Linked DNA regions of Homo sapiens: all the other regions are linked to region 3. The links come from fine-mapping of genetic effects on gene expression. A gene starts in region 3. Each other region holds a variant in brackets. All regions are shown on one strand. Distances are between the middles of the regions.

Evidence for each region. PIP is the estimated chance that this variant, and not a neighbour inherited with it, causes the effect.
Region 1: its variant is fine-mapped to the expression of MTMR1 in cerebellum (GTEx, PIP 0.95).
Region 2: its variant is fine-mapped to the expression of MTMR1 in whole blood (TOPMed, PIP 0.95).
Region 4: its variant is fine-mapped to the expression of MTMR1 in tibial nerve (GTEx, PIP 0.97). The same link has a PIP of 0.9 or more in pancreas.
Region 5: its variant is fine-mapped to the expression of MTMR1 in T cells (TOPMed, PIP 0.93).
Region 6: its variant is fine-mapped to the expression of MTMR1 in fibroblasts (GTEx, PIP above 0.99). The same link has a PIP of 0.9 or more in unexposed skin.

What each region holds. Positions count from the first base shown.
Region 1 is chrX:150,729,324-150,734,399 of GRCh38, reverse strand. MTMR1 (myotubularin related protein 1) reads right to left here. Exons shown (of 16, transcript NM_001306144.3): 7 at 4,190-4,291; 8 at 3,792-3,875; 9 at 2,781-2,930; 10 at 1,670-1,858. Among named protein-coding and RNA genes, the nearest start is that of MTMR1, 38 kb to the right of the region's middle. The variant A/C (reference allele first, on the strand shown) is at 2,497.
Region 2 is chrX:150,591,791-150,596,866 of GRCh38, reverse strand. MTM1 (myotubularin 1) reads right to left here. Exons shown (of 15, transcript NM_000252.3): 2 at 4,190-4,262; 3 at 297-369. The coding sequence starts at 4,252. Among named protein-coding and RNA genes, the nearest start is that of MTM1, 26 kb to the right of the region's middle. The variant T/C (reference allele first, on the strand shown) is at 2,169.
Region 3 is chrX:150,691,293-150,696,368 of GRCh38, reverse strand. MTMR1 (myotubularin related protein 1) reads right to left here and starts at 2,973. Exons shown (of 16, transcript NM_001306144.3): 1 at 2,693-2,973. The coding sequence starts at 2,838. RefSeq lists enhancers at 1,430-1,509, 1,530-1,629 and silencers at 2,523-2,662, 2,973-3,042.
Region 4 is chrX:150,746,519-150,751,594 of GRCh38, reverse strand. It overlaps MTMR1 (myotubularin related protein 1), which reads right to left. Exons shown (of 16, transcript NM_001306144.3): 14 at 752-865. Among named protein-coding and RNA genes, the nearest start is that of MTMR1, 56 kb to the right of the region's middle. The variant G/A (reference allele first, on the strand shown) is at 3,050.
Region 5 is chrX:150,642,109-150,647,184 of GRCh38, reverse strand. MTM1 (myotubularin 1) reads right to left here. Exons shown (of 15, transcript NM_000252.3): 9 at 1,314-1,502. Among named protein-coding and RNA genes, the nearest start is that of MTMR1, 49 kb to the left of the region's middle. The variant G/A (reference allele first, on the strand shown) is at 2,209.
Region 6 is chrX:150,756,527-150,761,602 of GRCh38, reverse strand. The region is part of intron 15 of MTMR1 (myotubularin related protein 1); the gene reads right to left. Among named protein-coding and RNA genes, the nearest start is that of MTMR1, 66 kb to the right of the region's middle. The variant T/C (reference allele first, on the strand shown) is at 2,458.

The DNA of each region.
Region 1 (5,076 bases), 38 kb before region 3:
ACATCCACATCGAATCCCTGGCAATGGTGAATGTGACCTTATTTGAAGAGAAGGTCTTTGCAGATGTTTAAGGATCCTGAGATTTGCAGATGTGTTTAAGGATTCCAAGATTAATTGAAAAGAGGGTCTTTGCAGATGTGTTTAAGGATCCAGGATTATTTCAGGTGGAACCTAAATGTCATCACAAGTGTCATTAGAAGAGAAAGGAGGAGACGCAGAAACCCAGAGCAAGAGAGGGTCATGTGATGACGGAAGAAGAGATTGGAGTGATGTGGCTGCAAGCCCAGGAAGGCTGGGGCAGCCACCCCATGCTGGAAGAGGCAAGGAACAGATTCTCCCCTTGAACCTTTAGAGGGAGCAGAATTGGCCTCCAGAATTGTGATCAATACATTTCTGGTGCTGTAAGCCAACAAATTGGTAGTAATTTGTATGACAGCCTCAGAAAACTAATACTTCCCCATCTTCCTCCCTGCCCTGTTCCTCTCCCAGTCTTCCCCATCTCAGTAACAGACACCACTATTCACCCTCAAGTCAGACACCTGGGCAACACCCTTGACCACAGGGGTGGCGAGCTTATCAGCATCATGTACTGTGCCCTGAGGATGCACTCACCACTGTGCTAAGTCATTTACATGCATTCTTCTCACTGAATTTTAATCCTCACACAACCCATGACATGAGACACTGATATTATCTCCTGTTTTACAGAAGAGGAACCTGAGGCACAGAGAGAGGTTAAGTAACCGGCTCAGGATTCTAGAGCACCAAGTGGCAGAACCTGGAGGAAAACCCAGGTGTAACTGATTCCAAAGCCAAGGGGTCTCACCAACTTGCCATCGTGCCTCTCAGGCCAGTTGGAATATACGGAGGGTTTGTGGTCTGGGAAACAGCCAAGCAGAGATGTCAACCATACAATGGGATAGAAATCCAGTCTCAACCTTAGGAGGGATCAGGACAGGAGAGAAACTGCAGTGTCAAGCTCAAGTTGAACTCAGCATACAGACAGTGTTTAAAGCCGTGTCATCAGAGATGGCCCCAGGAGTCTGTGTAGAGCAAAGAGGACCCCAGACCAAGTTCGAGGAGCAATGCCATTTGAAGACTGGGAAGAGAAATCAGTGAAGGAGATGGAGAAGGCCAGGCTGAAGAGCGAGAGAAACTCAGGGTGTGATATCATGAAAGTCATGGGAACGGAGGTGTTTTTAACCATGTCTCACTGCCACCCGAGGTACACTACACAGGTGCTCCATGAGATTTATGGAAACTTTGTACATTTACACATTTCACATGGCTGATTCCATTCTAAAAGAAATTCAGACCAGACATGAATTAATCAACTAACCACTATATTCCTTAAACGGACTTCCAAGGACCTCACGATCATTTCATTAAAATGCTAAATCCTTTAGATGATAATTGTCTTTCTAGGTCTTTACTTAATTGATTTAGCAGACAGGATATTGTAGAGAAGCAATGAAACAGACAAGATCCCAACCCATGTGAGACACCAAACACAGCCCAAGGAGCATACACCAGGGAGGAATAGCTATGGGACTCCAAATGATTCTAACTTCAGGTGGTGAGGAAATCAATGAGTTATTCCAACTGCATAATGATTTACAGACAGGACATGAAAATATCCAGTGTTTCTGCAGTGCTATTAAGAATATACCTTGTTGGTATCAGCGACACTGTTTTGTCGAGCATCAAAGATGATAAGCTTGTGTGACTGTGCGTTAGCATCCATTATTGTTTGCAAGTATTTTTCATCCTCTTTGCAGCGCTTATCATTGGGACCCACAAGTGGCTGGCTGCAACGGGTAATCGTTGCTTGACTTTCCGGATGAATCCATGACAACACCTAGTGTTTTTAAGCAATAAATATTAGTACAGTTCCTAAAGAATGTATGCTCTAATTACCTGGTAGGAAAAACAAGTTCCCTTCTCAAGCACGGTCTCTTATACATATTTTCTTCAAAAGTGAGAGTGGGCAGGCCAATCACAGCATTGTAGTGGCCATCAGACTCAATGTTTTGGTCAGGATGAAACAATTCTGACTACATGAGCTCTAAAAATCCCCTTCCATCCCCAATATTCTATGATTCTAAGAAAAACAAATCCTAAATCAAACTATTACTAAAATCTAGCCCCATTCCAATTTGATTGACTAATTTTACCTTGTCTCCTAATTTTAAAAACATCTTTGTATCTCAACAATAATATACGTGGCAGGGTAAGGACAAAGTGAATATACAGTCTCTTATAAAATCTGACACTCTGCCACCCCACCTCTCATTTTCCTCCAGTGGCCAAGTGACTCAGGATTACAACAGATGCAAACTCTGGGCTCAAACCATTACTCCCAGCTGTCTGCTACTACTTCTGTAATGATGTCCCTCCCACGCAGCTATGGCATCATGCTCAGTATCTAAGAAAGAAGCATTTTCTCTAGGATGATTCAGTGAAACCAGCAATGCCAACTGGTAATACAATAGCATG[A/C]TAACTTGTTGTTGCTACTCCTTTGTCATTCTCTACTACTTTTTGAGGGTATGACTGAAGTTCCCCTTATACTTAGTTATAGGAAATCGTAAAAGAGGGAGTCATAGCAAACAGATTGTTTATATAATTAGGTATTTGTTGAGAATCAAAGGTATGTTCAGGTTTATAAGCTTATTTTTCTGCTTTCCATTTTTGTTCACTAGTTTCTTTTTTGTCTTAAATCTCTCCATATTAGATCTAACGCAATATATATTCCTATATAAATGACAATGTTTATTACTTACAGGGACTCTGCCTTTTGCTCGAAAAGCTGCCACTTTTGAAAGGTCATCATCTTTTACACTAGTTGGCACAACAATGATGGCAGGGTAGGTGTCACAGAACTCATAATTACTGTTTATTTTGGATATTTTCCAACTCTCATTTGGCAAGCCCTGTAAGGTGTTGGAGAAAGAAGAAGAGGGTGAAATGCATGACTTTACACTTTGAAAAAGTACTAAGCATGAAGTACATCCATTTCTTATTTGCAACTAAAATCCGTTTATAATTTATTGTTTATTGTAACTTAAAAGTCAATATATATATTTATTCGGTAAAACCCATTTCCTAGACATTTCTAAAAATCTAAAGAAGCATAAGAATATCCAAACCATACTAAAACATGAAAATTATACGCTAGAATCACATTTCTATATATTTCTTGTCCTATTTTCTATAAATAATGAGCTCTGTTATTTTTGAGAATATACTCAAAAGTCCTTTAGAAACACAGATACCTCTTACGAATGTCTAAAATAAGTAACGTAAAACATTATACCAAATATAAGGTAGAGACAACGTCATGAAACAAACGTCATGAAAATAAGATCTTAGTGGAATAATTTGAAGCTGACAATGCACTGAAGAGTTCCCAGACCCGGGAACACTGGATCAGACAGATGTAGTCACACCACATGCTTCGAATCTAACTGTAGTCAGTGGTTTGGATCCTTACTCATCAATTCTTTACCAGAACATCTAATAAAAACCATCTGGCAAATTTGGTTTTTAAACCCGTCCTTGTCCTTGAGTCCCACTCACCCTCTGGAAACAGGATGAACAAACATGACAAAGTCTAAGGTTTGGCACAGGGAGAAGAGAGAATCAAGGAAAGATGGAGAACCTATAAGCTAGCAGTTAAACCTGTGCATAACTTGTTCGAAAAAGTTTCTTCTCCACCACATCATTTCTAACCTTTTAGAAGAGAAAAAGATGCTCAACCTATTATTTTCAGTTTGATAAGCAATATACTTTACCTGTCTCTTATATTCAGATACTGGATCATAAACTTTCCAGCCATTAATTGGAAATTTTTCTTTATAGCTGAATGCAAATAGTGCCTGGACACAAAAACCACAAAACACATATGTTACTATTTCTTTTTATATCATATACCCAATATTAAAGCTTTTCATTCTAATATGAGCTGAGTGTATTAAGATTCCTATTTTAGTCTGTAAATTTTACAGCAACAAAGTAGCAGCTTTTCTTAAGCATTACCCAGAACTGACAAATTTCAAATATTCTAATATTAGTCACCAACAGAGGAAAAAAGAGAGGAAAAAAAAAAACCTCTGGAAAAAGGAATAATTAAACATAGGATATTTGGACCCCCACAAATGCATGCAGAAAAGGTTTACTCTGGTGTATTTACCTGTCCGTTAGAAAGAGGAAATGCATGTTTGTTGAGGTTTTCAAATATCCCTAGTTTACTCTGTTCTTCCTGTTTATAAGCAAGCCGCAAGTTCCTCATATCCTGTTAAACAATTAGCAAAACTCGGTTATTCAACATACATCAGGCACCTATAAGCCAGATACCGTGCCATAAATAAGGAAATTATTTTTTTTTAATTCATTTCTCCTTTTATACTTTATCCTGCTCCAACGGCACAGTCTCCACTCATTGCAACCTCCGCCTCCCTGGTTCAAGCAATTCTCCTGCCTCAGCCTCCCGAGTAGCTGGGATTACAGGCACCCACCACCACTACCGGCTAATTTTTGCATTTTTAGTAGAGACAAGGTTTCACTATGTTGGTCAGGCTGGTCTCAAACTCCTGACCTCACGTAATCCAACTGCCTCGGCCTTCCAAAGTGCTGGGATTACAGGCATGAGCCACTGCGCCTGGCCCCACTTATGTTTTCAAAGAAGGACTATACATACATTCTCATGTGCATAGGCTATCTGTGGAGGGTTACATTAGAAATCGGCCACAGTGGGTGCCTGAAATGAGTGGAACAGGGTGGCAGGGTGGTGGGTGGAAGGAGACTGATTTTTTACTATACACAGCTTTTGTATCTTTTGAATTGTATATCACCTGTTAAAAAATAAACCCCACACCTTGTAAAGCTCTTAGGCATGATCTGAGAAGGCTGGGAGCATTACCTTAGTAATCTAGGTTAGAGAACATTTAAAGCAGTTGTTAGCAAATGCTCACCCCAGCCATAAAAATATCTTAGTAAAAGAGCCCCAGGATGCCTGCCTAAGCAACATAATTTCCTGACATGCCCTCCCTCTAAGCTACATGGCTACACACATACACC
Region 2 (5,076 bases), 100 kb after region 3:
CATGAGAGCTTATGGCTCCAATGAGAGACTTTCAAGAGATAATCCACATTTTTTTCCCCTAAATCATTCTCAGTCTTTGGTACAGACACAAGAATATCACTACCCTTGTGAGCATGAAGCTCTCAAAAGAACTCTTTAATCAAGAAAGGGATGCAGAGAGTTCTGTGTTAACGCTTCTAAACAAAGGTAGCCTATTTGTCTAAGCCTGACTGCTAAAGAGTAAGCGGGACTGAAGCCACCTGATCCTGCCAGACTTCTCCTCAAGTTATGCAAATCTTATGTCAGCAGGTCCTTACCAGTGATTAGTGTTTCTCCTGGAAGTCGAGGAACAGCCTCAGTGAGATCTCGATTGACTCCATCTCGAGACGTCTAGAAACAAAACAGATGCATCAGAAGTAATGACGTTACATTTACACACTGTTTTTAAGCAACTAGGAATACAAGCCACTAGAAATATGTTTTTTAAAGAAAAAGCATTAGAGATTTAGCATTTGGGAAAACTGGCACAAAAATTCAAACAAAAAAGTTACAATCTGGCACCAACATTAATTAGATGTGTCAACTTCTAGTATTAAATAATGCTAGCATGCTTTTCAATAATATTAATTTTTAAACTACATTTCCAAGCACTTTAAAGTTAACAGCTTTCGGGAAAGTGATAAAAAGTAAACATTAAGTGTGTTCTATAGATACACATACACTGTAGCAGCTTTCTTTTTTTCATATTCAGCCATCTTTTGGGAAGAGTAGGAAGGAAAACTTCAATTCCACAGAGGCTTAACTGAATAACAGCACAGCCATTAGCCAGAATCCTATTACAATGCCCGAAAATCATTGATTACCTATTGCGTTTCCTATTTCACTAAGACCCTTCCTCTCTTTTTACTTCCTCACATTTACTAAGATCCCTGTCCTAATAAGAGGTAAGAGTGGTCTGTCAGAGAACTTTTGAGCTGGCAAAAGTCTTAGGAGCCATTTGTACAAATTCTTCACATCACTTTACTATTTCTCTAGGCTTCCTGGCTTTAGAGGTATTCCCAAGCATGTGCCTCATTCAATCACTTCCACAGCTCTGCTAGGTGGGCACAGTAATATTAACCACTACAACCTGCAGGCGAGTTCGCAGAGCCTAATTTGCCATAGCTACCCATTGTCTTTCAGGTTATTCAGCTGCCCTAGTGGATTAATACGAAGATGTGTTGCAGGTGCTAGTCTGATGACATTTGAGGCACATCACTAACATCTGTTTGGGCAAAAAGTTTTTTTCAGCAGTATTTCATTTTTTTCTATTTGTTGTCCAAAATCACACTGCAATCATTTCATAAGTGAAGTTACTCATGCTTCCGTTAGAGCAGTTTTGTGAGTATTAAGTGAAAAAATATATATACAAGCACACTTTTATTTTTTGAGACAGTCTTGCTCTGTTGCCAGGCAACAGTGGTGCAATCTTGGCTTACTGCAACGTCTGCCTCCCAGCTCCCAGGTTCAAGAGATTCTCATGCCTCGGTCTCCTGAGTAGCTGGGACTACAGGTGTGTGCCACCACGCCCAGCTAATTTTTGCATTTTGAGTAGAGACGGGGTTTCACCATGTTGGCCAGGCTGGTCTTGAACTCCTGGCCTCAAGTGATCTGCCTGCCTTGACCTTCCAAAGTGCTGGGATTACAGGTGTGAGCTACTGTGCACACTTCTGTAAATTATCAGAGGCTATGCAAATGGAGAGAATTATTATGAAACAAGAGAAATGTGAATTGTATATTCAGGTGAGATATAAGCTGTCAAAGAGGGGTGTTATGCTGAATCTTTAATGTTTTTTTTTTTCATTCAGAGGCAAGAATGAAAATTCCTAGCCAATTTAAAAAATTTTCTAGTACTTGCAAGCTAAACATTTTAACCAGCTGGGCAAGACAAACTGTTCTCAGCCAGGAATGCCTTCCTCAATGAGAAGCAAAACCACACACCTTATATAAATTGTAAGAGAGGAAAGAAATTATCACCCTTTAACACTCCCTCTCACTAACTAAAAACAGGCATAACGAGCAAATGCAATACTCAGTATACCTTTTAAATACCACAGTTCTAGGTCAACCACAAAATAAGGGAAGTGAATGTCTGATTAAAACAGGATAACATGGGATTAACATAGGCTATACATTATACCAGAGCAGCA[T/C]TACACAAAGGATTTATAGTTACATTCTTGAAATTACTCCTGTGTTTAGAACTGATTCTGGTAACATAAAAATACTTAAATACAATAAAAACATATAATCTTGGAGATGAGGATGGTCCTTGTAGGCACCCAAAACAGAAAATATAGATTGATATATGTGATCACATAAAAACTTTAAACTTCAGTATTTCAAAATCAAAATACCATAAATACAATTAAAAGGCCAACAATAAATCAGGAAGAAGACTTGTAACATATTATAGAGCTGATTATCAAAATATAAGGAACAAGCCAGGTGTGGTGGTCCATGCCTGTAATCCCAGCAATTTGGGAGGCTAAGGCAGGTGGATAGCTTGAGGCCAGGAGTTCAAGACCAGCATGGCCAACATGGTGAAACCCCAACTCTACTAAAAATACAAAAATTAGCCAGGTGTGATGGTGCACACCTGTAATCCCAGCTACTCGGGAGGCTGAGGCACGAGAATCACTTGAACCCAAGAGGCAGAGGTTGCAGTGAGCCAGGATTGCACCACTGCACTCCAGCCTGAGGGACAGAGTTAGACTCTGTCTCAAAAAAAAATTATACACACACATACACATATACACACACACACGGAACACATAATCAATAAGAACTCCCCTCAAAATCCCCAAAAGCCAAATAAAGGACATGAACAATCACTTCACAAGAGAAATGCAAACTAATAACAAACACACTTTTATTTACTTATTTGAGACAGGATCTCACTCTGTCGCCCAGGCTGGAGTGCAGTGGTGAGATCTCGGCTCACTGCAACCTCTGCCTCCCAGGCTCAAACAATCTCCCACCTCAGCCTCCTGAGTAGTTGGAACTATGGGCGCACGCCATCACACTCGGCTAATTTTTTGTATCTTTGGTAGAGACAGGGTTTCACTATGTTGCCTAGGCCAGTCTCGAACTCTTGAGCTCAAGTGATCCTCCCACCTTGGCCTCCTAAAGTGCTAGGATTACAAGCATGAGCCACCTCACCTGACCATAAACACACTTTTTTAAAAAAGGTTAACCTCATTAGTAATCAAGAAATACCAATGAAAAGATCACCTTTTGCTCCCTTCTGATTGCTTAGGCATCTCTATCCACCTGGTGGGAGTATAAATTAGCCTTTCTGGTGGATAATCTTAGGGCCTTAAAGGGCCATGAATAAAGCTTATTTTAAATTAATCCCTTCCTTTGAATGCACATTCCAAAATCTCCCTCTAATTACACAATCTCCCCCTGGATACCTTGAACCATTTTCTGTTAAAGTTGTATTTGTTTTGGTTATGCAACAATTTTATCATAATTAGAAAATAATGCCAATAATTAGGAAGGCGTAGCAGCCTGCTCAGCAGGCCTTAGCCTTCCAGTATGTCCTTCAGCAACCTTTCCAGGTGGAGGATTGCCTAGTACCTTAAACATGAGGTCTAGCAGTAATTTCACGAGACAGAGGTTTTCAAAAATGAAGTTATGTGAAAGGATTTACAAATGTAAAACTCACTTAACACATATAAGGTATTGTATCTAAAAGCTTTTCTGGGCCGGCGTGGTAGCTCACTCCTGTAAATCCCAGCACTTTGGGAGGCCGAGGCAAGTGGATCACCTGAGGTCAGGAGTTCAAGACAAGCCTGGCCAACATGGCGAAACCCCGTCTCTACTAAAAATACAAAAATTAGCCGGGTGTGGTAGCACACGCCTGTAATCCCAGCTACTAGGGAGGCTGAGGCAGGAGAATCACTTGAATCTGGGAGGCGGAGGTTGCAGTGAGCTGAGATCTTGCCACTGCACTCCAACCTGGGCTACGGAGCGAGACTCTGTCTCCAAAAAAAAAAAAAAGCTTTTCTAGAACAAGGTGAGACAATAAAGAAACCACATGTATAAATGTATTTATATGTGAATGAATAATAAAATTCATAATTCAATAGGCCAGCCCAAAATGACCTAATATTCAAATATCAAAATAAATGCAAGGAAAGAGACAGATAAATCTGAAAATTCAACTTACCCTCTTAATAGACTCATTCTCCAAGGAGTGTGAATTATATTTAGAAGTTGATGCAGAAGCCATCCTGGAAACTCTACCAAGAAACACAACATTCAATATCAACTGAATTTGTATGCAATTTCAAACATATGTGACATCTGAGACTTAAATATGGCAACTGAGAGCAAACGGTACTACTTTACAGGTTCTATTTCCATACTAGGCCCCAGTGGTAATAAGACATACAAACGATGAACCAGAGCACAGGCAGTATGTGAGAGCTCCAATAAAGGTGCAGGGGACTAGGGGAGAACAGACAAGGGGAGCTAAATGCACAAGGGGGAGCTCAGCAGAAGACGCCATACACATTCCAGGAATTTTAATTCGTAGTGCTCTAATTGCCATCTAAAAAAACTTAATGTTTATTAATTGTGCAACAGGCCTCAAATTTCCATACTCCTTATTTTTTAAAGATAATTTAGAGGCAGCCGAGCAGAATGAAAAAAGAATGGACAATTTAACTCACACTATTTTCTCTATTAAGAATTTTGTTTTCTCCAAATGATGGCAGTTTAGAGTGGCATGGATTTGACTGAAATCAAATTGGTAAGATTTGATTTAATCAGTATTTTCTAGGGAAAGTATATACTTCATTTAAATAATGCATATTCATCACAATTCAGGCATAAATGAAAGCATTCTATTCAGAACATACACAAATACCATTTTAACGCAAGGATTTATTTAGACTTAAGAAGATTACAGCAACAACAGAACACTAAGTAATGCTTTGGTTATTTTATCAAAGTTTAGGACACAGATAGATACATATAAAGTCAGCGGGAGGTAAACCACATCCAATTCAACAAGGTGACTGTGGATATTTATAAATATCTTTTTGCCAGGCT
Region 3 (5,076 bases):
GGGACATGGCCAAGTCCCACCCATAGAGCCAGGTTCCATTCTAGAGGTCACTCTTCAAAGAAAAGTGTGAATCTGAGCTTGTTGAGCTGACAGAACTGAGAAAGGAGGCCATGATTCCTCCCCCATCCCTTCTCTGTAGTCTGTGCAATTGCCCTCTATACTCCTGGTGTCAATAACTACTTACAGGCTGGAGGCTCCCAGCTCTGTTTCTCCAACCTGGACTCTCCTGATCTCAATGCTGATGTTCCTACAAGACCTGTCCACTAGTCTGGCCCAGAGACCCTGCCAATTCAACCTGTCTAAACCAGCATCAGCCGCTCAGCCCCGCAACCTACTCTGCTCCTGTGTTTCCTAACTCAGGGCGCAGCACAGCCAGTTATCCGGCCCCCACACGCTAGAAAGCTGAGGTTTGCCTTGGAGTCCACCCGGCACTCCCCCCTCACATCTGAATGCTCACCATGTCGGGTCACTCTTACCTGGTAAGCATCTTGAAAATCCACCCAGCCCTATTCCTAGCCCAATTCCCTTTTCCAGACCTCCATCATTCTTCTGTGAACTCCACCTGCCTCATGAATTTAAGCCTCATCTATAAGCCCATGACTCCCCAGTTTGAATCTCCAGCCCAGACAACCCTGAACTCCAGGCTCAGATAGATCAACTATATCTTTGACATCTATTCTGGGACATATAATTGGCATCTCAAAATTGATATGTCCAGAGCGAAGAGCCTGCTATTTTCTAACCCTGCTCCACCTTAGAAAGACTTCTCCATCTCAGCAACACAATTTTCCCACAAGCTAAAATTTTGGAATTCTCCCAGATTCTTCTCTCATACCAACCAACCAATCTTCAGCAAACCCCATTGGCTCTACCCTGCAGGTCTTCAAATTACATGTAGTATCTGACCACTTCTCCCCTCCTCCGCTCCACTCTGGACCACCATCTCACTTGGCTTACTACAATAGCCTCCTACTGACAGTCTCTGCTTCAGCTCCTTCCCCTTTCACTCTATTGTCCACATAGCACCATGGAGAGCCTACTGAAATCTACAACAGATGATGTCACTCCTCTGCACAAAGTCCCCAGTGGCTCCCCATGGCCTCTGAGGCTCTCCACCATCTGGCTCTGTGACTTCTCTAACGTCATCCCTTACTTGTCTCTCCCTAGCTCCCTCCCTGCTAGTGACACCTAGTCTCCTCGCTGATCTAGGAACACTTGGCTCACATTCACCTCAGGGGCTTTGCACAGGCCTCTGACTAGAATACTATCACCCCCAGGTATCTGTATGGCTGGATCCCTCGCCTCTTTGGGGGCATTACTCAAATGTCAGCTTTCTCAGGCTTTCCCTGATCATCAAAATCTCTGAAGGAAACCAGAAGATGAGGCATATTTGGGGGTGACACATTCTGGTCTCCTTTGGCTTCTTAAATGATTCTGATGCATGCCCATCCTGAGTACTTCTGTGTTCGCCTCTACCACCTATCTCATTTATCACATTCGATTTCCACTGTTGGTTGGTTTGTATTCTCCACTAGATGGTAAGTCTAGCAAAATGGTAAGGCAGCAAAAGCCGTGTTGTGCTATTCTCTGAATCGCCCAGACCTCGTGTGTGGTTGAATATTTGCAGATGAGTGAAGTCCTCACCATTTCAAGTGCTGTCTTAGCTGTGACTGGTTTTCAGTGACACTAACCACTTGGGTGATTAATTTATTAAAATATATTGTAATTACACTGAGGTAGAAACAAAAGTGAAGGGAATGTTTCTTGTTTCTGTGCTTTTGGAAACTCCCAAAAGTTTGGCACAATGGGATGACCAAGACAGGCAGGAATGGGCATGTAAAACTGACTGAGCTACATTCCAACAGTGCATGCTGCCTGAGTGCACTCTGGTGTCAGGGAAATGGCCAAGTTGTGGGAAAACTGGATGTTCCGGGTTACACGATAGGCCATCTCTTGTCGTCGGAGGAGGCGGTGGCCCCTCCCAGTTCGACACGGTCACTTTATGTTTCTAACTGATTTCTCTTAGTTCTGCAGCTGCCTCAGAAGCAGTAGGCTTGCTTGTGTGTTCATGAAAACAATAAACTGGTTCCCTCAAAGTGTGAAGAACTGAAAGTAAATGGTTCTGTTTTCTTGCCTCCTGAGCAGTTTGGACGTTTTCCATCTCAGATTTTTGCCTCGATCTGCACCAGCTCCCACGCCCGCGGGGTCCCATCTCCCCGTCCTCACTCCCAACCCCCCATCAAAGACCCTAAGCAGCCACAGCAGAATTGGGGTCTTAAAACCACACGAGGCAAGGTGATGCTAGAAGAGGAGAGCCCGGGTGGGATCTCCCTCCCAAGAGGATTGGTGGCCTGGGCAGGGACAGCCAAGCGATCGCCAAGGGCAGCAGGTGGCGGCGCCGGAAGTGGTTTGACAGCTGCGAAGCCCCTCCCGGGGTTCCAGGAGCTGGGGCTCTCGGGGCGGAAGTGAGCCAGGTGCGCGGCCCGCAGCAGGTCCGAGGGCAGCAGTCCCCGGATGGGGCGCTGAGGTTTCCGGGGGTGGGGGGGAGGAGGGCCCAGAGGGGATGAAGAGGGGCCGCCCACCCCGCCACCGCCAGGCCCTGCGCAGCGCGCGGGGAGGGGGCGGGCTGGCCTCGCGCGGGGCCCTCGGGAGTCGGGGCGCGGGAGGCCGGGGCAGCCCGGGCCCCGCTTACCTGTCCAGGGTCTCCACGCTGGGCTGCCGGGAGCCGGCGGTGGCGCCCCCCGCGGCCCGAGGAGGCCTCCTGCCGCCCGCCGGCCCCGGGTTCGGGCCCCCGCCGCCCTCGCAGCCCGCCGCCGCCGCCGCCGCCGGCCTGTCCATGGCGCGCCGAGTCCTGCCGCCTTGGGGAAGCCGCCGTCGGGACGGGAGCGGCGGCCGGGAAGGTTTCGCTGCTTGCCTCCTGCCGCCCGCTCTATACCGCCCGCCCGCCTCAGGCGGCCGCCGCCATTAGCTGTCACCTGGCGGCCCCGCGTTACCCACAAGGCCGCGCGCGCGGGGGTCGGGGGGCGGGAGCGGGGGCGGGGAGGGCGGCGCGCGGGGCCGGCGCCGGGAACCCCCACCTCGCCCAGCCCCACCTGGGCGCTCGCCCACGGAGCCTTACAGCGGGGATCTGGGACCTCCTGCTCCAGCGACCTGGGTGCGTACAGAGCCACTGGGGTTCGGAATCCCCAAACGGATTATGCGTAGCGTGCTTCACTCTATAGTCACACCGGGTTGACTGCAGAGACGTGGGGTGTAAAAAGAAGTTTGAAGACATTCAAGTATCAAAAATGATTTCCCACCTCAGTTGTCCTTCCCGGAAAAGGTATAGAACAGCTCAAGCTCCCTCGGTCTTGACATCTTGAAGCAGGAGCAATTCCGTGCATTTTAGCAATTCCTCCCCACCCCATTCTTCCCTCCACTCTCCCCCTCCATACGCACCCCGCCGCCCCGCCACAAACCCACCCCCTTGCCATCTGTAGGGCAACCAAGTGTTCTGATGCCGCCCTCGGAGCTTCCGCCCATGGTTTATGTTAAGAGTAACATTTAACTTCTGTTGATTAAAAAATCACTGCTATGAACATCAAGCCAATATCTTGGTGAGGCATTTAGGACATTTGCTTTCTGGGCTAGATTTATTTCCTTGCTCATTTTGTTTGGGTTCGAATATCCAACAGCTCATCCCCTCTCACCTCACCCCTGATTAAGTTGGGAGTGGGTGTGTGGCTCGTGATTAAGCCTCTTTGCCTGTGATTGCTCTGGGTGTAGACAGGAGGCCTGCGACCCAGGTCTGGAAAAGAAGATATAAAGGGAACAATTTGCTCACTGTTAAAAGGCAGATCTGCAGACAGGGAGTTACTCATGCCCATCCCAGACCCATCCTGCCCCACCAGCTTAATAACTTCAAACTGAACTTTGAGGATATGATGCCTGAAGCCCCGACAGCCATCTTACGCACAAGAGGAGGTGAGCCTGGGGTAAGAAGATGACAGAGTGAGGAGGGCTAGGAGGAAGGAAAGGAAGATCCCCAGACAATAATAGCTCCTATCTCACACTGGAGAATCACCGACTGCAGGTTGCTGGCTTTCTAAAATTATTAAATCAAATGGTTAACCCACTGTTATGGACTGAATGTTTTCATCCCCCTGAAGTCCATATGTTGAAGCCCTAATTCCCTGTGTGATGGTATTTGGAGATGGGGTCTTTGAGAGGCAATTAGGTCATGAGGGCCAAGCTCTAGTCTGATGGAACTGGTGCTTTTTAAGAAGGGTCACCAGAGAGCTTGATCTCATGCACTCACATGCACACACTGAGAAAAGGCCGTGTGAGTACACAGCAAGAAGGTGGCCATCTGCAAGCCAGGAACAGAGCCCTTACTAGGTCCCTGCTGGACACTTAATCTTGGACTTTCCAGCCTCCAGAGTTGTGAGAAAATTTCTGTTGTTTAAGCCACCCAGTCTATGGTATTTTGTTTTGGCAGCCTAAGCACACTAAGACACCCACTTTTAGTTGGGTATTTTGTTACAAGTAGCTGCAAGCATCTTAGCTGTGCTGAGAATTGTCAGAAAGAAAACAGTGCAACTTTAAGCATATTTTAAGTACCATATTCTTTAAGAAACATTAGGCCAAAGAGGAATTCACTGTGACACTGTCATACTTCCAATTCAGTTAAGTACACTTAGGATTTAGAGGACAGAGATGAATCTGACATATCCCTGCCTAAGATGTTCACAATCCAGTGAAGGGGACAGACAAATTAACAATGACATTACAAGTTGGCAAGTGCTATAATGGGGACAATTGCACAGGATGTGGAACACCTACCCCAATCCATAGGAGAAGAGGAGGTCAGGAAAACTTCCCCAAAAAGGTGACATAAAACTGAATCTTTAAAGATGAGTAAATCCTTGATGAGGCAAAGGAGTCAAGTTATTCCAGGCAGAAGGCACAGTTATGGGCAAAGGTGTGGATTAGTAGGTATATTAATCTGTTTTGCTTTGCTGTAAAGGAATACCAGAGACCTGGTAATTTATAAAGAAAAGAAGTTTATTTTGGCTCACAGTTCTGCAGACCGTACAA
Region 4 (5,076 bases), 55 kb before region 3:
CTGAGCAGGGGAGGCCGAGGAGGCAGGAAAGAGGCAGGACCAGGTGGGGTCACAGAATGAGGGCACTGTCAACTGTGGGGAGGCTGCTGAGAGAGGGGGAGGCGGGCGTTACTGACAGACTGCTTTCTCCTGAATTCTATACTGTCCTAACATACTTGGCTCACAGGCATTGGTCCTTGTCTATTAACAGGATCATATACTCCTTAAGCTGCCTTTTTCCAATGCCTTCTCACTTTTGACCACGTTTCTCTTTTATCCCACACTGAGGGAAAAAGAAAGAAATGAGATGTAACTCTGAGAAGTTTGGTAACTGCTTCTTTACTACTTTGATGTAAAAAAGTGTTAGCTTGCTACCTAAAGTGGGCTTTTTGGCTAATCAGCAGACTCCATTTCCAAGGCCTTCAAGTATGATCTGGCCAACACCACAGAGGATGAAAAGCAGAATCCCACGGTTTTGGAGTTGGTGCAGCGGAGACTACATGAACTCGGAGTCAGGAGGTCCAGGGTCTAGCACTCATCTACTCCTGAGAGAGCCACGGGCTCGCTGGGTCCCAGCCCCCCATGCCTAGAAAGGAAGGGGCTTGTGTTAGACACATGCGGTGGGGCTGGCCAGAACCCTGGGAGGGCATTTACAGTCAGCAATAGCACCAGAGCGCAGTCCTCCCTCCCCTCAGCCCTCCTACAGTAGCACTTCCGAGGAGAGGTGCCTGAGCCACAGGGAAAGCAACAGACAAGGATGCAGCATACTCACCTCTTTGAATCGCTGCTGTTCACAGTTGCACAAAAAGGTCCCAAAAAGACAGCTATAAAGGTGATCCAAAATTGTAATCAAGAATAGCTCATTAAACTCGAATGCTGAAGGAAACTTAAATGAAGAGAAAAATAAGGTTTAGTCATAGAGTCCAATTTCTAAAAGTAATATTACTTTTTTATGAAAGACAGCGAAACTACAACTTGGAATATAGTCAAAGATTTAAAGGAAGACTGAGCCCATGTAAAGTTCAACTACCTACAGTTTTAGGTCCAAACTTATAGATCTGGCTGAGAAACAACCAGCAGCAACTAAATTTGTTGTACTCAATGCCCAGAAAAGCTTATGTAGCTTCCACTTCTCACCATGGCGGCAGGACAGAGCCCAGACTCACCCTTCTGTCAGAAACATCTAGCAAGCTGGATACAATATAAGAAATGACTGTTTTCAGACACTGGCAACAGGCAGTACTGGACTGTGACCCTGAGAGAAGGGAAACAAATGAGGGGAGCCCTCTATTGTGCCAGCTTCCCCGCTGCAGCCACATCCCAGGTCGGGGGTAAGGGGAGCAGTACATCCAGTCATAACATGTACCCAAAGTGACTCAAGAAGAATAGAAAATCCGAATAGCTCTGCATCTATTAAATAAACAACTCCTAGTTAAGAACCTTCCTACAAAGACAACTCCATGACCATACACCCCTGAATTTTTTTTTTTTGAGACGGAGTCTCTCTCTGTCCCCCAGGCTGGAGTGCAATAGCACCATGGCGCCATCTCGGCTCACTGCAACCTCCACCACCAGGGTTCAAGTGATTCTCCTGCCTCAGCCTCCTGAGTAGCTGGGATTACAGGTGCGCACCACCACGCCCGACTAATTTTTGTATTTTTAGTAGAGACGGGGTTTCACCATGTTGGCCAGGCTGGTCTCCAACTCCTGACCTCGTGATCCACTCGCCTCAGCCTCCCAAAGTGCTGGGATTACAGCACGCCTGACTTCTTACCAGTGTAAATGAGCAAGCTGAACCTGGCAATACATTTTAAAAAGGTAACACAACATGACCAAGTGGGGTTTACTTTACGAATGTAAGCCTGGCTTAACATATGAAAATCTATGTTACAAAACAAATCAATTACTGTAATTCACCATATTGGCAGAGTGAGGGAGCAAAACCACAGATCGTCTTGATTGTTTTAGGTAATTCTTGATGGGATTTTGCAGAATTCCAGTGAAGACTATTACTATTGCCAGCAGGTTCTAGCCAGTAGCTGGTGTGTTGTGGCCATGAGATGATCTGGAAGTGATAATAATTACCCTAACAGCAGGCATGTGCTGAGTGCCTACCATGCGCCAGAACTCTAATGTAAAAACACAGTAAAATATTCATCACCTACTCAATGAAGCAAAGCCAAATAGTACTACCCAGCATGCTTGTATTTAAGTTGGTTTACTTAAAAACCTATTCTTCAATCAGAGTGCTGTGTGCACACTATCATGACAAATCTTCACATCTCCAGAATGATCACATCAGGATCACTGGTAGAGAAGTTTATTTTTTAGTTTAGCTTTACTACTAGACTAGCACCAGGCTTTTCAATTAGAACAATGGTCAATCCAGGACTGTCCAAACTCCACCTGAAACTGTTTTCTTCACCAGGCTATTATATTAGCTGACTTAAGGAATTATGCTCAGATACCGTGGATTAAGATTTGCTTCTCTCTCCATCTTAAGGATTGCTCTCAGAAACACACAACTCTCCTCTAAGGAATCCCATCAGAATATTACTGCTTCAGAAACCTCTGGAAACTAATTCTGGTGGTTCTTACTGGCACCCTTGTTCTTAGATGAACTAAATCAATGATGTGATGTCTCTGGCTGAAATGCTAACAATATCTACTGGTTCATCCTTTCTTGGAGCCTTTAAGATTGCCCCTCGCAACTCTGACAGTGGCCTCACATTTCAAACGGCTATCTTTCTCTATTTCTCTCTCTCTCATTCATGCATTTATTTATTTAGATAGGGTCCCACTTTGTTGCCCAGGCTGGAGTGCAGTGGTGCGACTGTGGTTCACTGCAGCCTCAACGTCCCAGGCTCAAGTGATCCCTCCCACTTCAGCCTGCCAAGTAGCTGGGACTACTGCCACAACCCAGCTAGTTTTTTTTTGTTTTTTGTTTTTTGTTTTTTTTTTGTAAAGACAAGGTCTCCCTATGTTACCTAGGCTGGTCTTGAGCTCCTGATCTCAAGTGATCCTCCCATCTCGGCCTCCTAAAGTGCTGGGATTACAGGCATGAGCTACC[G/A]TGCCCGGCTCAAATAGCTATCTTTTAACAGGCCAGGCACACTATGTCCAATTTTCCCAGGACTTCTCTATGCTGCTTAGTTATGCCCTATTCATAAATTATTGGCACCACAGAATTTGTGAATTGTAAGCAAATATATGACATTTTTGTGTACTAAAGCTTTATTAAATCAAGGATAGGAATGAAAGATCCAGGGTTTTGTCCTATATTTTATAATTCTCAAACTTTTAAAAACAAATGTTTACTAAAAGATAGCAAATTATTGACATATTTTCAAGCCATATAAGTGCTATGAACTGAATATCTGTATCCCCCCAAAATTTCTATGTTGAAATTCTAATCCCCAAGGTGTAGTATGAGGAAGTGGGGCCTTTGGGAAGTGATCAGGTCATGAGGGTAGAGCTCTAGTGAATGGGATTAGTGCTCTTCTCAAAGAAGCCCAAGAGAGCTCTCTTGTTGCTTCCATGATGTCAGGTTACAATGAAAAGACAGCTAATCTATGAACCAGGAAGCAAGCCCTCACCAGACACTGAATCTGCTGGGGCCTTGATGTTGGATTTCCCAACCTCCAGAACTGTGAGAAAGAATTTCTGTTGTTTATAAACCACCTCATTTATGATATTTTGTTACAGCAGCCCAAACAGACTATGACAATGAGTCTTCATTCCTAGCCCCTGAGCCTGCATTGTAGATTTGGGAGCTTGGAAAGGTGTGTTCTAGAGTCAGTGACAACAAGCCTTATTCTGGTCACTGGGTACCAGATATGGGAGGTCAAAGTGGGCAGGGCTCAGTCCAAGCCCATTGGCACCCATGAAAACTGGAAAACAAAGGCTCCACCTACTCATGTTGGGTCAAGACTGCCATTTATACTCAGGGGGTGTCATGGCATTAAGCTCAACTCAAAAAACAGCTCATTGGAGGAAACAGTAGCAGGTGGAGTAATATAAACGAAAGATTAGGTCGCTGCAATTCATAGTTTGTTTTGGCCTCTTCTCCTGGAAACTGTACCTTTTACCTAAAAGTACGATTTCCGAAAATACATAGCACAGTAATCTATAATAAAATTCTGCACCTCCTTTTTTATTGTTTTAGAGACAGGGTCTCACTCTGTCACCCAGGCTGGAGTGCACTGGTACAATCATAGTTCACTGTAACCTTGAACTCCTGGACTCAAGCAATCCTCCTGCCTCAGCCGCCCGAGTAACTGGGACTACAGGTGCACACCACCATGCCTGGCTAATTTTTTAATTTTTTTTTTGAAGAGATGGGGTGTCTCACTATGTTGCCCAGGCTGGTCTTGAATTCCTGGCCTCAAGCGATCCTTCTACCTCAGCCTCCTGAGTCGCTGAGATTATAGGTGTGAGCCACCACACCTGGCCCCAATTCTGCACCTCTTGAGGAACAAAAATATCAATGACTATTAAACCTACCCAGAGGAGTAAGGATTGTATTAAACTATGGATATTATTGAGTGTCTTTGGGACTCTAAAGAGTCCCTCAATTATTTTTCCCTTAGTTTCTTTGTTCACATACAGACTAGTTCATTTTATTCTGATATTTCTGACAATTTTACACTGCATAGCTTACTTAACAGTAGGCAACCTAAAAATAATCTTTCCTATGACTGCATCTTATACCTGCTATATATCTCATTCATTTCTTAATGAACTGATAAAGACTAGTCATGGATGTCTGTGCTAATGCATTAACAATGTAATTTTAAAAGAAATTAATTATACACACATTTCACAGACAGAATCTTAGAGCTGTGAGAAGCATCTGAAATCTTCTAATTCAAACCCCTTTTCTTAAAATCCAATAAAAGCACAAAAATGACATGGCTTAGACATGAAAACAGGCACTAAGCAGTATAAAGAATGGAGGTCAGTTTGAAGATGTTTAAAAATCCACATTTGGGAGGAATAAGCTATTTCACATCCACCGAAATGGTGCTCATCCCTTTAGAAGCACTGCAATTATTTTTTGTGTTCAACCTTTTTATGCAATTTTTCTAAAATGTGTTTCAT
Region 5 (5,076 bases), 49 kb after region 3:
ATATATATGAAAGATAATAGGTACACAGATATATAAAATTAAGGACAATCCAAGAAGATATTTAGAGTTAGATTTAATTTCCTGAGTGTTTCACTTACGATTCCTAATTTACTTGTCAATTTAACTTACTGACTGCTTCACATATAATTTCAAAATCATCTCTGGACCAAAAAACAACCGTAGTAACAAATAGCTGGTTTAAAAGCATGCATGGGGATGGGGAGGTGGCCCAGGATTAAATGTGTAGGACAGAAGATCTGTGCACAAATAATGAAGAGTTGAGCTCTGCATGCATGCAGTCTGACACATCCTAGTCCAGACAGATATCACAGATTCTATTAGGAAGCTGCTGCACCTATCTGAGCTGCTCAAGAACTTGTTTTGCTTTCTGGTTCTTGTCTTATGTTCTGAATAATTGAAGATGCTAGACAAATAACCTCAGGATAAGCAATGTATTAAATATGATGAAATTTAAGCTTACAGCAGAGGAGAAACAATAAATCTGAAAGCTGGAATGGGAGTGAGCAATTTGGGGCAGGCCCCTCGTGAGCATTTGAAAGTGACAGCAATGATGGGAGGAGAAGGAAAAGAAAAACAACAAAAAGGAGAAATAGAACGTAAAATGCACATCAATCTGGGGCCATTTAGTAGAGCAAGCAAACAGCCATACACCTTGCAGCAGCTTCTGAAGGCAACACTATGCAGTCACTGATGTTCATGATGACCCTAATCAATTTTAAGTGCATTCAGCATATTCTGCTTACAGCAAAAAGTCAATTGAGACAGACTTCTTTGAAAACGGTCAACTTTGTGTATATGTTTGTGCCTGGAAAACTCACATACGTGGACCTACTCATTTCTTGAATTATCTTATGTAAATGAGAATACACATATGTGAGTATATACGGGTATGGGGGAGGGAGTGTTTGAGTAAGCATGCAAATTTAGTATTTTAATAATTACAGCTTCCCATAGCTTCTTACAGATGCCCCAATAGTGTACACAATGAGTGATCATCCACAGCTGAAAGGGCTTTAAAGAGAATCTAACTTTTTCCTGCCAAGGTCCTGGCCAAAACCCAATTTCATTACAGTCTAGACATGCCTATTTACCTAAAGTTTATTTGCATTTGATTTTGATATATTCAATTTTGTTTAAGTTTTGTGATTAAAACTACTTTCTGTCTAAGAGAACTGGTTTTCTTAACTATTAATTTAAACCCACGTGTTTCTATATCATGGCAAAAACATTCACAGAAAACACTGCACTCCATATGTAAGCTAAGTGTCCAGCACATCATTAAGTCCACTCACCTTGTTGGCCACTGCATTTACGCTGGGTCTTGCATCATAAATGGTGAGTTTAGAAATTTGTTTATTAGTCTCCCTGATAACATCGAGATATTTCTCATCATCTTTATTTCGTTTCCCACTCATACCGACAAGAGGCTGACTGCAACGCACAATGACCGTCTTATTTTCTGGATGAATCCATGACAGCACCTATGGTTAAGTCAGAAAGTTTAAGCTATCAAGAAAGCAAATCTCCAAGCAAACAATTAAAACTGTAAAACAGTAAAGCACTGACGGTTATCAAGAAGTGAATCTGATTGTGCTAAAATAGAATACTTGTTCACTTGCAATCTCACTGCGTGTGTGTGCCCAGAGACATGCATTTAATAATATAACTCAGAAACAAGTACAATTACCAGTCTTTTCTTAATTAGCACCACATCCAATATAAATTAATTGCTTACCTAAAAATAGTTATATCACTTAAAGGAAATTGAAAGCTTGATCCTATTTTAATTATGTAGCTTGCACTGGATTTGTTATCATATAGAAGCAGCTTTGGCAAAAAGTGAGAGGTAAAGGAAATTGTCTCTGGTACAATATGTTTCTCATAATACCAACTCTGTCTACAGATCATTTTCCCAACAGTCTCAATTCTAGAATCTAACACAGGAAGGAAGAAAACCTGAGCAGAGCAAAACTGATCTCAGGACAGCCCAAAGAGCATAGATCTGCTCGTCTCCACAGTGCAGTGTGGACATCCAATGCCTAGGAGACCTCATCAAGCCCTGATTCAGAACCTATCTTCTCTAACTTTATACACAAGTCTAGCACATTTGCTCCCTGGTTGCCAAGCTCATAGCATGTGAAAAGTAATACACGTAAAAGGTAGCTAATAATGTAATATACCAAAAAC[G/A]ACAGAATTGTACACTTGAGATGGGAAATTGTTTGGTATGTGAAGTAGATCTCAATAAAGCTATTAAAAATGGGAAGCTGGAGAACTGCAGCACAGTGGGCGACAATGTGGACTTTGGGGTCTAGTGCCATCTCTGCCGTGGTTCTAACCTCAGGCATTTCACTCGCAGCTTCTCTGGCTTCCCTTTCCTCTTCCATAAAATGGGGAGAATAATATAATCTCATAGGGTTGCTCGGTGGCCTGAAGAAGAATGCCCAGAAAGTCTGCAATAAACACTGGCTCGTGTTAGCTTATAGAGGCAGGCCCAGCAGCCAGGAAAGTCAGTTAGCAAAAACTACAAAATGCAGATACAAAGAACGAAAGAAGCTTAATCATGTGGGCTCACTCAACATAACACCAAATTCCCTGATGTCTCTGAAGTTACCTACCCCATGATGGCAAATGACAAACATTGATGTTTATAAAAATGAGTGTTTATAATGACAACAGGTTATTGAGAAAAGATTATACAGTAATATTTATTCATTCTCAGAACAAATATGGTCCTTGCACCATGCTAGAGATCAATTAAAAACACCATTGTAGCCCCTGCCTAATAAGAGTCCAAAGGCTCAGAACTGGGAGCCTTGGAGAAGGTACCAGTGGGACCTAAACCTCCACCTTCCAATCTATAATGCACAGCACATATGAGATCTGCCTTCCTTTCCCTCTATGGCCCTGGTATCAAGAGAGACAAGAGACATGAGACCACTTTAAAGGAGCAATTTGCTACACATTTAAAAGATTTATTATTTGAGAAATTATTAAAATATTTTTTAATATTTTTTATTATTTTAATAATTTGAGAAATTATTAAAAATAAAAATTATTTATTATTGAGAAAGACCCTCATCAAGTTGTAAATTTCAGTCGGGCCATAGGCAATGGCCTCCCGACCCCTATTCTCTTTGTGGTGCCATGTTAGGAAATGCTACTCCTCTGAGTTGTTTCTCCTCTTAATTTCTTTGCAGGAGGGGGGATTCTTACTACTTTTTGAAAAGGATGCTTATTACAGAGCTAAACAGGTACAAATAATGTTCATTTCACAGTGTCAACTACCATGAGTGCTTTTACAGTATATGGCACTGTATTATTCTTATTAAAATTCATATCTAGAAGCCATAGATAATTAAGTACACAAATATCTAACCACTGAAAGATGTTTATTACAGCATTACTTACAATAGCAAAAGATTAAGCAGAAGCTGAATGTCTCACAATGGAAAACTGATTAAATCATGGTACATCTACACACTGGCATATGAGCGGATCATATTTAGCAACATGGGAAGTTGTTTACAAGATATTGCTAGATAAAGACACAAATTATAGAATAATTTCTATAGACTGAGACACAAATTATAGAATAATTTCACTTTTTTCAAATATATATACATATGTGTGTGTGTGTGTAGATATATGCTTAGAAGGAAGTCTGAAAGGATATATACCAACAGTGTTAACACTGGTTCTCACTAGGTGGCAGACTCCTTTTTGCTTATCAGTATTTTTTATAATGCTTAAAATGAACGTGCATTACTCATACATTAAAGACTCATAAAATTAAGAGAAATCTGTTTGAGAATAAGAGAATACATATCCATTAATGGAAACATTTAATGCACATTGATTATTTCTCTACCCAGCAATATTTTATTATAGTTTATATCTTATTTACATGCAAAATAAGATCTCTTTCATGTCACTTCCTTTTGTATTTTTACATGAGGTTTTATAAAAAGAACCAACTATCAGATATTAATGATTTCACATTAAAGGCACATATGTTTTCTGGGTGGAAGCAAAGCTCTGAGACTTAGCCAACAGCCGGGTGGTTAGAAAGCATACTGCAAAGAACATATTACCACGCTTAATAGTACCTAATAGTAAATCTATAAATATGTAGAGGTGATGGGGAACTTAGTCTTCCCTATAAAAGCCATTTTAGAAAAAATAAATACAAATTGGTGGCCATGATAAAGTAAGAAGGATCAATAACATGACTAAATAAAAAGTTAAGAAATTCTATCTGCTCTACAGTAGACACTCATTCATTCAGAATAATGGGGACTACTGGATCAAGATGGCAACCAAGCATGGTAGAAAGGGCACAGTTGTTCAATTTTCTCTGTTTCAAATCCCATAGAATTCACCCACATACACAAATGACACGGTAGATGCTCAATAAATATGAACTGAATGAATACATGAACAAAACTGAGCCAGGCTACCCTAGCCCAGTTGTCCTTGTGAGCAAGGCATGCATTAGCAAGACAGACAGCCAGCCAGGGTAGGGGTGTAGTCTGTGGCTATGGTACAGAAGAGCATGTCCAAACAGAGCACAGGAAGACTGAACTTGTAACCCTAGCTTCATTAGCATCATGTTCTAACAACATGAGCTAAAGAACATACTTTCAAGTACAATTTATATCGCGAAGATATGAACAGACACTACTAACTGGAGAAGCAAGTGAATTAAAAAAATCATTACATAAAGCATTTATTAATTTTAATGGGTAAAATAGTAGTGCTATAGTGGAAAAACATGACAGACACTGCCTTAGCAGAATAATCACAGTTAACATCACTAATAACGGGACAAATCAACAGCATGTCTCCTAAGGTGGTGCACTGAGAACACAGCATCACTTCTGCGGTTTTATGGCTAGAAGTGTATAACAAGTGAATTAAAAAAAATTACAATTCATATTAGGCTGACAATACAAAAGTTTTGCACAAATATCCTTTTAAGGAAAAAAAATGTCTAGACTTGAAAAAGGCAAGGTGACATTAAGTCTTAATTTCTTCAACCTTTGTTTTTAAACATTT
Region 6 (5,076 bases), 65 kb before region 3:
CAGCCAGGCCATGTGACTGGCCACTTAACACCTTCCAGGGACTTCTTCCCCCTGCCCTGAGAGGGGCCTCGAGGCCCTCTGCAGTCTGGCCCCAGCCTGGCCCTCTGGCTCATCTTTCACCAGGTCCTTCCCCCACTCCCTCAAAGACTGAGCTGTTCCACCGTGTGTGCCAATGGTGATCAGCCCTCCTGGAGGGAAGGGGGAGACGGAAGGAGGATGAGAGCGAGACCGCAAGGGGGCAGCCAGGTCCCTCTAATAACAAGGTGCTCAGTAACCAGCACCCAGTGGGCTGAGAAGAAATGACCCCCTTGGGCAGGCCACAGGAAGAACAGAGGGGACAGGAGTGGAGTGTGATGGCAAAGGCAGATCCCACAGGCCTCTGGGAGGTGGCACCAGCTCCTCTCTTACCCTTAGGACCCATCTGGCATGCGTTTTCCTGTCTGTAGGATCATTTAATTCTGATCAGACAAGGGACGCCTTGCAATCAAGTTCCCATTATCCATCTACAGGCATGTGACCTCAGCAAGAAGCAAGACACGCAGGGAAATACACCACTGACACACACCCAGGGCAGACCCAGCACTGCTCAAACGCACCACTATCATCTCTTCACCAGCTGTTTGCATCTTTTCTCACCTATTTCTTTTCTTTTTCTTTTTTTTTTTTTTTTTGAGGCGGAATGCAGTCTCACTCTCTCCCCCAGGCTGGAGTGCAGCGGCACGATCTCAGCTCACTGCAACCTCCGCCTCCCGAATTCAAGCGATTCTCCTGCCTCAGCCTCCTGAGCAGCTGGGATTACAGGCGCCCGCCACCACTGTGTCTGGCTAATTTTTGTATTTTTAATAGAGATGAGGTTTCACTATGTTGGCCAGGCTAGTCTCGAACTCCTGATCTCAAGTGATCTGCCCGCCTTGGCCTCCCAAACTGCTGGGATTACAGGCGTGAGCCACCGCGCCTGGCCTACTCACATATTTTCATTTGCAACAAATCAAGGGCATGCCTGAAGGAATAGAAAACTCGGAGGCTTAAACAGAGGATTGTGTTAGAGAAAATTCCCATCTAAGGGCCAGTCATGTTTGCCGCATGGGTACTAGCATCACAAGACATAAGGCAAGACAGTCCCAAAGGAAATAGGACGCCCCTGGGCCTTCCACACCCAGCCATCCTCTGATGGATGCCCAAAGAACCCCTTTCTCGGCAGCCAATCGAGCCACTGCCTTCTCAGAGAAAAGAGGCCCAACAGGCTTGCATCTGCCCTGTCGTTTACCCCCCTGCACTCCCTCCCCTCCCCTCTCTTCCTCCTTCTCTCTGCCTCACCTGGCTCCTCAGGCCCTGTCACTGGACACCCACACCAGCCACTGATCTCTGCCTGTCTTCAATGCACTCCCCCACCCCCATTCCCACACCTAGGAGGTGTCCGACACATGCCTGTTGCATACAGGATAACAAGCTGCGGCCCATGTACTCTTTTTTGGTTCTCTCTTCTGTGTAGCACAATGGAGGGAGAATGCAAAAAGCAGGACCACACACCTACTACCCTCCGAGCACAGTGCACTTGGAATGGATTCACTTCCTGCTCAGCAACCCCCTGTGAGGTCCCCGTGAGGCTCAGGACCCTGCTGCAGATCAGGCGGTGAGTCACTGCCAGAGACGGGATCTGGCCCTGTCGGGGGCATCCTTCCACAACTACACGCACTGGGCAGCAAGATTTCAACCAAGTCACTGCTTCTCTGACCCTTCCCTCATTCTCTACGTCGTGGAATTGCTGGGAGCGTTAACTGGGATCATGTGTGTACAGAACCCACTGGCACACAAGAGGACTGCAGGTTATAGGCGCTGTCGCTGTGGTTTCCATCATCATCATGATGTTGCAGGTGGCTTCGCCTACATGAGTGAGAACCTGACCACATCTGGGAACAGATCTGTCGCGCAGTTTGTAGGTTTTAGGAAAGGTCTGTTACCTGCCTCACGCGGCGGGCAAGAATCTGAGCCTGGGTGCACCCCTGTGGGACACCACTCTAACCCTCTCTGCTGGTTCAGCATTTCTTCACCTCTGCAACCTGCTGCACAAGGGGGAGCGTGGCAGGGGTACGGGGGTCTCCTGCAGTAATCGAGAGGCTCTGTTTAGCCAAAGGCACTCCAGATCAGGCATGGTTCTGTTGGATTTTCTGCTAATGTTCATGACACTCCACCAACCACCCGGGCCTTTGAGTCACCAAGAATATCACCTGGTAACCCTATGTGATTTCAGTAACATAGTGACTTCTGACACTCTGTAGCCCATCTTCCCTGTTGCCAAAATAGATGAAATAGAAGCCACCCAGGACAGAATAACTCAGCAAGATGCCTAAGTAGAAATACACATCAGTGAAGAGGAAGGTGCTGGAAGGGGGATGTAGGCTTTGGTTCCCAAGTTGACCACTGACTGGAAAGAAGTGCTTGATGGGCCCCTGTGTT[T/C]AGCATCTCAAATAATGCACCTGAAGTCAGAAAGGAGGACAGTGCTGGACCTGGACTCCAGTGACAGGGCAGCAGGTCACCCTGCACATAGACTTCTTGGGCTGAAAGCCAGGAAAGAAGATGCTAATGGGACCAGCAACCTCTCACGCTCACTCATAGTTCCTGGGCACATGGACCATTTCAAAGACAGCTCGCCTTCAAACTCAGTTCTCATCTGGGGAAGGATTCAATCTAGTGACAAGCAGTTATTAGATTAATAACTTAAAGATCAATTAATAACAAGCAGGGACATGTCTTGCAGAGCACAAAGTCTAAAGGGAGAGATAAATGTAATTTTTTTTTTTTTTTTTGAGACGGAGTCTCACTCTGTCGCCCAGGCTGGAATGCAGTGGTGCAATCTCATCTCAGCTCACTACAACCTCCGCCTCCCAGGTTCAAGCGATTCTTCTGCCTCGGCCTCCTGAGTAGCTGGGATTATAGGCGTGCACCACCACACCTGGCTAATTTTTGTATTTTTAGTAGAGACAGGGTTTTGCCATGTTGGTCAGGCTGGTCTCAAACTTCTGCCTCGTGATCTGCCCACCTCGGCCTCCCAAAGTGCTAGGATTACAGGCGTAAGTTACTGTGCCCGGCCAGAAATGTAAATTTTTTTAAAAAGAGGAAGAAGGAAGCTAAGTTGATGCCAGGAGCTCAGGTGGTGGCCAAGTGGCAGAGGGCGTGGGGAGCTGGAGCCATCGGGCAGCCACAGAAGGTGATGTCTGGGCTGTTAGGCAGGAGCAAAAGGCCTCTCTGGAGGAAGGTGGAGCGTGGACACAAGGCAGACTGAGGCGGGGAGAGTAGGTAGAAAGCTGTCCCAATATCCCAGAGGACTGGGTGTGGAGGGGAGACCTGAGGGAGAGGCCAGTGGGGACAGGACAGGTTTAGGGTGGGCAGGTGTGAGTCCTCTGTAGGCTGAGGGGCAAGAGCCACCACAGGGAGAAGGAATAAATGCAGGTTCAAGGGGCTGGAGAGAGCAGATGTGCAGGGGGAACTGGCCTGCAGCAGAGGGGCGCACCTCTTCATTCACTCATGCGTTCATTCAGTCACATCTGTCGAGTCTCCGTTAGTTGCCAAACACCATGCTAGATCCTGAGGGCCCTGTGGTTTCAAAGCCTGTGGTGTGTAGGGGCAGCAGGCAGGCAAACAGGCCGGTGCAGTATCGAGTGTCTTGGGGAATTCTACAGACTGATTATTAGCAGCGCCTCCACTCTCTTTCTCAAAGTACGCTAGTTTGGGCAATCAACATAGGGCCGCCAGAGCACTAGGTGAGCAGGGAAGAGGGCGCTCAACGGGAAAGGCTCCAGGGCAGCACAAGTCCCAGCAGCTCCCTGGCTAGTGGGAGAGGGACACAGATGCAAGTCTCTCCTATCCAAGGAAGACTCTGGGAAGAGCTGAAAGAGGTGATCAAACACTAGTTGTTTTCATACATGTGAAGACACAAAGGGCGGCTCATTCACACGGGGGATCTGCTTCAAGCAGGGGCAGGGCGTGTACAGGGGAGATGTGGCTAAGGGCACCCTAGGATGCAGGAGCACCCCTGCAGCCAGGACTCCTTCCCAACTCCCCAGGCCCAGCGTACAAGTACTAGGCTGAATGAGCACCCATCACAGTGTTCTGGAAAACACTCCTGAGGTCGTAAGGGTGGCAGGGCCAACTCAGAGGGTCCAGAGGAGAAAAGCATTTGCAGTGGAAGCTTTGTGGAACAAAATAGAAAGCCATCTAGGAAAGAAGAGGCAAGTGATGACTAGCCTGGTCTGTGGTAGAGGGCAAAGGATCCAGTGAGGAGTGGCCAAGCAGCGGCCTGGGGCAGCGGGGCGCACCCAGCAGATGGAGCATGGAGCTAAGGCCACCAGTGAGGGAGCTTTCCAGCTGGCAGGCCGGGGTACTATAGTGACGTATCCTTGAGGTTCCAGGGCCAGGCAGCTGAAAAGGAACATGAGCAGTTCAGACTGCCCCATGGCTAGTGGAGTGTGGAGACGATCTAGAGATCATGAAGACCCTAGGTGAGAGGGATGAGGGAGCAGGAGGATGGAGAGGAAGGCAGATTTCTGTATCATTGGCTGACAGAGCAATGCTATTAAACAATGCCCTGGGTACACGCTCCTGATGGACTGCAGTTAAACTCTGAGAGTATTCAAGTCAAAAGAAAAATCTCAGGCCTGGCGCAGTGGTGCACACCCATAATCCCAGCACTTTGGGAGGCCGAGGCGGGCGGATCACTTGAGGTCAGGAGTTTGAGACCAGCCAGGCCAACATGGTGAAATCCCGTCTCTACTAAAAATACAAAAATTAGCCAGGCATGGTGCTGTACACCTGTAATCCCAGCTACTTGGGAGGCCAGAGCAGGAGAATCACTTGAGCCTGGGAGGCAGGGGTTGCAGTGAGCCAAGCTCATGCCACTGCACTCCAGCCTGGGTGACGAGCAAGACTCCGTCTCAAAAAATAAATAAATAAAAAAGAAAAAAGTCTCAGCAGACAGTTATCTGTCCATGGAGGTACAGGCTGCCTCTATCTGTCTTCTTCACCACCCAGAACCAACCATGCCCTGGCCACCCATGTGGAGACTGGGGGTGCGGGGCA